2 linked regions of the Homo sapiens genome follow. The protein of the gene in region 1 interacts with the protein of each later gene in a biochemical or structural test. Each region holds a gene or a part of one and is shown on either strand. Other genes may lie near its edges.

Region 1 (5,457 bases):
CAGACGGGTGGGGTGGCCCGTGTAATCAGCGGACACAATTATGTGCTATTTATACTCCTTCCCCGCCCCCCCACCTGCCTGGCAACACAACCCTCCTCCTCCTCCTCCTCCTCCTCCTCCTCCGGACCTGGCTATGCCTCAGGCTATTTTCTCTGTCCTTCCCAAGCCATTGTCTCCCCATCTTTGTTCCTCTGGGCCTGTTTCTTTATCTTTTTAGTTTCTTTCCTGCTCTGTTTTTTGTTGTTGTTGTTGTTGTTGTTTAAAGCCACACATCTGGTCTTCTGTTTTCCTGTTTCCTCTCTCTTATACCTGGTGATATCTCTTCTGATTGTCTTGGACTCTTTCATTTGCTCTGTTTCTTCTTTTGCTGCTTTCTCTTTGTCTATCAGCCACCTGGTTCCCAAACCCTTCCCCTAAACCTTGGGTTCCCAGAGTTCCTTGAGGTAAATCAAATCATGGGGCTAGAATCCAGAACTCCTGGGCCCTACCCTGAAATTGGTGCCTACCTGCTGGCGAAACTGCTGTGCAACCCTCCGTGGACCTCCATCTGCTCCTGCCACCTCCCAGCTTTTTCTTTGGAGATCTGGGAGAGCAAAAGGAGCAAGGAATTGGGCACTCCGAGAAAGTGAGGGGATGGTGTTGCAGAGTGAGGAGAGTGGAAAGGATGGGGCTTTATTCCCCTGACAGGGAGAGCTGGGAGGGGGAGAAGTGTGTGTTAAGGAATAACCTGTAAAACAACCCCAGCGGGCTAAGCCCCCCTGTGGGAGAGCTGCCGGTGTCACCACTTAGCTGCCCAGTCCTCTCTCCCATAAATACCTCAGGGCCCATGGCCCAGGTTTCAGGTAATAGACTTTTTGGGTTTCCCTCCTAACCTGGCTGCCCTTCCTTCTCTTACTTCCTATTTTGTTGGGAAGTCCTTATTAAGTTCTAACTTCAGTTCTTTCTGTGGAAGAGGGAATTGATGCATGGCAATGAGAAAGGGAACCAGGAGTTCCCAGGAAAGTCAGATCACTCTGGAGAACTGTCCACCAAAGGATGGAGATTAAACCCATGGTCTCTAAGAGATGGTAACTTGGTTACCCAGGGATGGTAACTGACAAGGAATATGGAGGTTAGGGCATTTCTTTTTGGGGGAAATAATCCAAAGAGGTTAGGTGTCGGCATGAATGAGTTGACCCAATGACCTTCTACCGCCACCCTCACTCCTGCTTGTCTTAAATTTTCTCTTCATCAGAAGATCCAGGTTCTGCCCCACAAAGTGAGGTAGGCCTAGGTATCACCTCCAAACAGTGAAACTGAGGCACTGGGAGGAAGACTGAGGGACCCCCAAGCCAATACCAAGCCTTCCCCAACTCTTCAACCCTTCCTCCAGGCCTTGCTCTGGAACCAACCTCAGTGACACTAAAAGTTTAGGCAGCAGAAACCTCCACCTCAGAACCTTCCATGCCTCTTCCCACAACATACACACACACACACACACACGGGCACGTACACACACACAGGGGCACATACACACTGCTCTCCTGATCTAGAGGCAGGTGGGTGACTGGGGAAGCAAGCCTCTCCATGGTCAGCTGGGGCGGGTGTGGTGCGTGTGCCTCCAGTGCGTCACTGTGTGCATTTGTGTGTGTCCGTCTGTGTTCATTCATGATAGTGGCTGTACCCATGTGAGTGGTACTGTGTGTACGTGTGCATGCATCACCCCTGTGTTTGGCCATGAGTGTGTATGTCAGTGCGTTCCAGTCTCTCTGTGTGAGTGTCGTCCCCAACCCCCCATCCCCCCCCTGGATCTCTAATTAGTGGTTTGGGGTTTGTTCCTTTTCCCTCCTGTTCCTTCCCTCAGCAGCGGCGGGCGGCAGCAGCCTAGGCAGCAGCAGTAGCAGAAGCAGCAGCCGCCGAGCAGCAGCAAGGACTCTGGAGTCAGAGTAGGACTGTAGGACCGGAGCCTGAGTGGAACAGGAGTGGAGCTGGCCTGGGAGAGAGCGGATCCCTCCCAGCACCCTCAGGCCACCCGTTGCCTGCACTCTCCCTGCCAGACCTCCAGAGAGGAGAGACTCGGGACAGCCAGCCCCAGGTTCCCCCAGGTACATGACACTGGGGAGCTCTGGGAGGGGTGCCCACAGATGCCTATGGGACTGCTGCCGCGTGTAGGACACCGGGGTCCACCATCCCTTTAACCTCTCCCCTCAGCAGCCCCCCGAGGAAGCCCTGACAACTTGCCCATGCTGCTCTCCCCTCTTCCTGCTTCCCACCCCTTCCATGGGCGCCCCTTTTTCTCCTCTCCCTCCCTGATCCCTTCTTTGGGGAGCTCAGCAAATGGAGCAGGAAATTTGGACCCTCTGCCTCCCTCTCTCGCCCTCCTCATTGGATCTGGAGCCTTCTCCGCTGGGAAAGCTGTAATTAGAGGGTGGATCCCTACAGACAGAGAGCAGCCCCCCACCCCGGTCCCTTCTAACTTTAGATCTCTTCTCTCCCATTCTCCCATTCTCCCTCCCTCTCCCTTTTCTCTCTCTACCCCCCCCACCCCCCGGCTCAGCTCTCTCCATCTGCCTGGCTCCTTGGGACCCGTTCCCCAGCCTCAGGATGGCGTCCTCCCTGCTTGAGGTAACTGTCCCCTCTTCCCCCCAGGAAACCAGCCACAACCTTAATGGTCCTAGTCCTTGCCCACCCACCTCCTCCAACTCACATAGATAGTAGCTGTGGTGCTTGTCAATTCCAGGGGTCCTTCTGATGAGGAGAGAGGAGTGGGGTCCAAGAAAGGGGAAGCAGAGGGCAGGAGAAAAGGGAGGGAAGAATAGGGCCAGGGGTCAGAGGGCAGTGGAAAGAGGGTGAGAGGGGATTAGGTCAGAAGAAGGCATGGACCCCTACCTAAGGTCAGCTAAGCACACTGACTGTGAGGAGTGGAAAAGCGATGGAGAAAGGAGGGGGAGGGGGGCGAGGGGGAGTGAGGAGAGAGGGGTGGGAAATACATAAGCTGGCAGAAGAGATAGAAGGCAGAGAGGACTGGCTGAGTGGGCACAGAGCAGCAACTGGGTATAGCTCTTTAGGGGTCCCGTCTCCTGGGACTCGTAGCCCAGACAGGATCTTGCCTGGTTTTGTGGGGAGGGGGCTGGGCCCGTGAGCTGGTGTGTGGAGGAGAGGAGGTAGGCTATGAGAGAAAGGAGGAGGCCAGCCTGTGCCTGTGGGGGAGCTGACCAGGGGAACTGAGCCCAGGCCTGTGAGGGAACCAAGGAGGAGGGACGGGGTCTGAGGCCGCTTGCCCGGCTTACAAATATTTAGCTTTCAGCCAAAGACAAACTCAGCTCTATTTTGGGAGTGGGAGGCTCCAGGGCGGACTGGGCCACTTCCCCTCCGGGCTGGGACCCCAGCATCCCTTGCCTCTGGTGCTGGGGACAAAGGGAATTGGGGTACCACTGGGGTCAGGGTTTGGGGTCTTGAGAAATTTCTGACTCTACTCTGGCTTCTGGGGGACCCAAGGCACAGAGTTGGGAAGGCAGGGCTCACAGCCACTCAGGGCCAGATTCCTCCCTGCTTCTGGGTCTCTGACACTGTTCCTCTGTCACCATCTCTGTCCTGCTTTCTGGGTCTCTCTGCAGGAATTTAGGGCCAGAGGGCCCTCCCTGAAAGTCAGTCCCCTTCAGTAGCCTTGACTCTTCCCTATTCTTGGGTCCCACATCTCTCTTCCCAGTGCCCTAGCTCAGGCCCAGGGGTGCTGGGCCAAACAGGAAGCCAACTCACTCAACCTGTGGGAGAGGTGTGTGTTTGTGAGATGGGGCAGGAGTCTTTTAACACCTGTGTTCATTGGCCTGAGTGTAATCGTTAGGGTGCAGTCGAGGGTGCCACAGGCCCTGAGAGTGTGTGTGTGTGTGTGTGTGTGTGTGTGTGTGTGTGTGTGTGTAAGTTGGGCCATCTGAGTGCTGTGAGTCCAAGTGATAAATGGTGTGTGCACAAGGCTGTGAGATAGTGAATTTGTGGCTGAGTTTGGGGGAATAGCATGCAAGCCAACCAGATGGACACCACGTCCCTTGTCACACTCTGTATCCAGCCAGGGGTCTACCCGTAGCTGCAATGGGAGCAGACTGTCATCCTGCCACCTCCCCAACAGACTCTATTTTGAGCCATCATTGAAACACTGTGGTCTTGAGGAATAAGATGCATGGAAATCCTGGGTCCACCCAGGGCAGGGACAGTGTCAGTGGGCGTGGGCATCATGCCAGTGTTGCCAACGTGGCGCTGGTGGCTTGGGAGGGACTGGCCCAGAGGCCTGCTGGAAAGACATGGGATTGGGATAGTGCATGGCGAAAGGAGAGTGTTGTGGAAGCTAGACTTTCATGTCCCCTCACTCCTGTGAGCTGGAGATGCCTGCAACACGAAGGCACACCAGTCCCTCCTGTCCCTCGACCACTTGCACCTAGTTTTTGAGTACCTGGGCCCTCAACTTCCTCCCCACCTCCCCAGGAAGCCCTCCACCTTGTATGGGTGGGCTCTCTGGCAGTGGGAAGCAGCTGCTGCTTGATGGGGGGCTCACCTCGGCCAAGTGAGATTCAGGGGAACAGGGAAGGGGAAGAAATTGTTGGGGGCCTAGGTGGGAAAGGAGAATTGGGAAGCTGGGAAAACGAAGAAACTTGGGAGAAGGCTGAGAAAGTTGAGAACTGGAAAATGGGACCTTGACTGCTCCAAACCTAAGGCCAGTCAGCCCTGAGATGTCTAGTGAGCACTTCCGCTGGGAGGCCAGGCTGGGCACTGCACCATGAGCTCCCTGGGAGGAGGGGATCCCCCTCCCCTGCTCCACATCTGGGTGGGAGAGTTGGGACAGCTCCTATCTTGTTCTTTTTCCAAACACTCCCACTTCAATACTTTAATTCTGTTTGTCTTGTTTTGTTTTGTTTTAAGGGTGGTGGGGTGGAGGTCGGGAGGGAACAACTCGAAGGTGGGACTGCTGGGCCCTGGAAAGGGAACACATTTGATCAGGTATGGGGACACATGTTTAGAACTCTTAACCAGTGCTCTTTCCCCAAGTTCTCAGGAGAGAACAATCAGCAAGAGAAGGAAACTGAGGCTGTGGTGAAACTTAGCCACGTGCTCAGCCTGTAGCCCCCAGAGCATTCTGAGTGGGTCTGGTTCCTCGCTCCCCATTCCCTGCCCTCGAGGGCCCTCTGGGCCTCCACTCCCCAGGGCTGGGGTCTCCTGTTGGCCTGGGGCTGGCTGCCTTCTTTCACCCCTCCTTCCCTCCCCACAGCTGGGTGGGGTCCCTGGGCTTGGCTGAGGCCCCTGTGGCCGCAGTGTGAGGGCCGGGCGGGGGACGGCGTCGGCGTTTTTAAAAATAAACCGACCGCAGGGAAACCATCGGAGCCGGGCTGGGCAGAGGGAGAGGGGGCGGTCAGGGGGGAGAAGAAGGGAGGAGTGGCCTGGTCTGGGGGTTTTCTGGGGCCCAGCACCATGGTGGTTTTCTCTTAG
Region 2 (3,787 bases), on another chromosome or scaffold:
CCTTCTAGAAAAAGCATCGAAATTCAGGGCGGCCGGGTGGGGCGGTTCCTGGAGCTGCTGGAGTCCATTGTAGCCACAGTCCTGAGTCTCAGGCGGAGAGAGGGGTGGGGGGTGGATGGATGGACCCCCATCCCCATCCCAACCCTGCCAAGAAACAGAGACACAACCAGGATGTGAACTCACGTACACCACCATCACCGCCAAGATGGGGATGTAAGTGTCCTGTTCACACCGATGTCCAGACCCACGACCATCGACGAGCCTACAGACCTACGGACACAGGAAACCGACGACTTGTGTTCACACTGTCACACACACCCATTAACACACACGCACCTCTTGAAATGGGACACGTATATTGGTGTAGGCTTAGCGACACAGCAGTACCTCTTTGACGCACGTATGGACACAGGAAACTGTGGACTTGTGTTCACAACCACCCCCAGCGCACACATAAACACTCACAAACCCCTCGAGATGATACAGATAGCGACGAAGGCACATGGAGACCACGACACCTCCCAGACTCATGGAGCCCTGAGCACATGCTTGGATACAGGTAGACACAAATGTGTGTTCACCCCCACACATGCTCACATGGACCCAAGGACGGACAGGCGGATGGATGGATACACATCTTTACACAGAGACATAATGCAGTTGGCTCGCTCAGGTGTGTACACAAATAACTTTTCTTTTTCTATTTTTTTTTTTTTTGAGACGGAGCCTTGCTCTGTCGCCCAGGTTGGAGTGCAGTGGCGTGATCTCGGCTCACTGTAACCTCTGCCTCCCGGGTTCAAGCAATTCTCTGCCTCAGCTTCCCGAGTAGCTGGGATTACAGGTGCCCGCCACCACGCCCGGGTAATTTCTGTATTTTTTAGTGAAGATGGGGTTTCACCATCTTGGCCCGGCTGGTCTTGAACTTCTGACCTCGTGATCCACCTGCCTCGGCCTCCCAAAGTGCTGGGATTACAGGCATGAGCCACTGCACCCGGCCACAAATACCTTTTCAAACACACACACACACACACACACACACACAAATATGCACCAATGCGTGCTTCCCCCTCCTTGCCACAGGGATAAAAAGGCAAACATGCCGACATTTGCTGACACACACAAAGACATACATGGCCGCACACACGGATACACCCGCTCTCAGACACGCAGCGACCTACGCCCATTTTCCTGGCCATACAAGCAGCCGAACGTTCCTGTACTTCTGTATCTGCATAGCTCCCCCAACACTCCTTCCATGGGAGGGGGATGGCTGGGGCTTCCCTGATGCCCCCTTCCCCCAGCTTTCTCTCTGGGTCACTCTGGCCACCCCTCTGTCCCTGCGAAGCTATAGCTCTCTGTCCCTGCTCCGGCCTGGTGCCCTGTTTTCATGGCACTTGGCATTTTCTCTCCGGCTCTGGCCCTGCCTGATTCATGCCCACTGCTGGGGTGGGAGGTGTGCCCAGGTGTGGGCCGGGATGGGGTAGCTCATGAGATGAGCTGGGGCTCCGTGAGATGTTTTGATGCTGGGCCGAGCTCAGAGCCGAGGGCTCTGCCGGGAACAGGGTGCTCCAGTCTCTCTAGGGCCTGGAATGTCTTGTGTAGCCTCAAGAGCTCCCAGACGGAGGCTGCGGGAGCGGAGTCAAGGGCTAGGCTTTGCCGTCAGACAGAAATGGGTTCGAGCTCCAGCTCTACATGTTCTAATCTTGCGACCTGAAGCACAGGATTTTCCTGGCCTGTAAAATGGGCAAAAACCAGTGTCTATCTCTTGGGCTGTACTTAGGTTCAATGTGGTGCCTGGCACATAGTGTGTGCTCCATAAATGGTAATTGTTGCCAATTGTTGGTTGTCAACCTCCCAGACCCTCCCAGCTGAGAGAGGGATGCCTCTGAGGGGTAGAAGACAGGATCGAGCACCTCCCAACCATAGATATCCAAGTGGACTGCCTGGAGGAGGAGGAGGCAAGAGGAGAGTTTGGAAGGATGAGAGTTTGCACATGGCCCAGCTCTTTTACCTTTGGATGGGGGCCTGTAGGCCAAGCAGAGGGTGGCACAACTTCAAGATAGGGGAGAGATGGTGGGGGAGAGTGGGGGGCAGGAGGGGAGAGACGAGGCCTCCACTGTTCCATGAGGACCAGATACCCTGGTTGGGGGCCCTGAGTCCTGGTATAAGAGTATGTGTGCACGCATTCATCCAAATGTATGTGGGACAAAGAGACCCGGTGCATCTAGATGATGACTTCAGGGACGTCCCCAAGCTCCAGAACTTTCTGTGTCTGCACCTGGGCGTTGTCACCTGGACCCGCCATGGAGACAGGACATATGTGCAGGACCCTATGGTGGGCACTTGGCTGGATCAGGGCACATTGCGGGTGGGAGCAATGCTGGGTGTTTGGCCGTGGCGCCGTGGCTGTGGGCAAAATGCCCCCGTGGTTGGTGTGTTGACTGCCGTCCTCCCCATCTAACCCACAGGGAGCCTGGCCTTTTAAATCTGCTGAGATATTGTCTCCCCCACCCCCATGAAGCTGGAATCTGGGGACTTGCTGGACCAGAGAGGTAGGGGAGGCTGGGCACTTTCTCCAACACGGTGCTGAGAATGGGCCTTCTGTCCCCTCCCTCCCAGCTGGGGTGGGGAAAAGGAGGGGGGTGTCTTAATTTTCTTGCCCCCAAAGCCCTGGATGTGGGGGCAAGTGGGCCAGGAGGACAGCTGTGAGCCACTATCTGGGTTCTCCCAGATCGGTGTGCATGTTAATCGGCATGTCAGGCCTCAGAGCCACCATTTTCCCGAGGATGTCTGTGTGGCAGCGTGTGTCTGCCCGGGTCCCTCTCCATGCCTCTCCATGTCTCCCAGCGTCCATCACTGGGTGCTACCTGCATGTGACTCCACGGATCATCGCACGCCCTGTCTCTTGTGTATTTGGTAGTGGGGGTCGGGGAGCGTGCCACCATGCGTGTCAGTGTGCCGGATGTAGTCTCTGTGTCACGGTGGCGCTGCGCACGTCAACGGGTATTGGTGTACCGGTCACCATCTTTGTATCTGCGCTTTGTATCTGGGGTGACAGTGTCCCAGCGACATGCGTCACATCTACAGCAGTGTTTTTCTGGGTGTCTGTGCGTCACGGCAAAGAGTGTATCCGTGTGTCTCACACACGTGTTGGCCTGTCCGTGTCAACTTGTGTCCACATACGTGTCAACGCACGTGTCTCCAGTGTCATCACCCTCATATCACTGTGCCTCCTGAGCTTGTCCCCGTGACAATCACTGTGGGTCTCACCCCACGGGCGCCTCTCCTGGGCATTCCCTTGGCCTCCGAGCACCATGTGAGATGCCTGCTATGGCGGCCGGGCAAGCGGCTGGGAGCGGGCTGGCTGCTCAGTCCCTTCCCATGAGGTTGAGCGGCCGCAGTGGCCTTGCTGGGGGCCCCGCCCGTGCCCCTGGCCTGGCGTGGACAGAAGCCCGTTGTGCGGCAGCGAGGTGCGGGCGTGTGTTCGGGCCGCCCACAGGCCTCCCTCTGTCTGCCCGGCGCACATTGATCTTGGCTTCTGCCTGTGTCCGTTCTAGCCTGGCCAGCTGGGTGTCCGGCTGTCTCCGTGGGCCTGAGCCCACTATCCCCGCTGCCCCCACAGCCAGGCAGGCCCTGGGCCCCACACCCCTGGGCCACCCGCCATCCCTCCGAGGCTCTGAGGGCGCGGATTTGGAAACTGAGGTCCCCCCTTCTTTCCCCCTTTCTCTCTCTCTCTTTCCTCCCTCTCTCCTCCCCTCCTCCCCTCCTCCCGCTCCCTCTCTCCCTC

Evidence for each region. Proteins that work in one complex are often made in the same cells at the same time.
Region 2: the proteins of SP7 (region 1) and NFIX form a complex in vitro, tested with the Homo sapiens proteins (one study listed by BioGRID).

Annotation. Positions count from the first base shown.
Region 1 is NC_000012.12:53,332,773-53,338,229, reverse strand, and holds the start of SP7 (transcription factor Sp7), read left to right. Parts: upstream 1-1,875; 5' UTR 1,876-2,084; intron 2,085-2,453; exon of another isoform or gene 2,454-2,536; 5' UTR 2,537-2,583; coding exon 2,584-2,604; intron 2,605-5,457. UniProt on the Homo sapiens protein: Transcriptional activator essential for osteoblast differentiation. Binds to SP1 and EKLF consensus sequences and to other G/C-rich sequences.
Region 2 is NC_000019.10:12,998,475-13,002,261, forward strand, and holds part of NFIX (nuclear factor 1 X-type), read left to right. Parts: intron 1-3,787.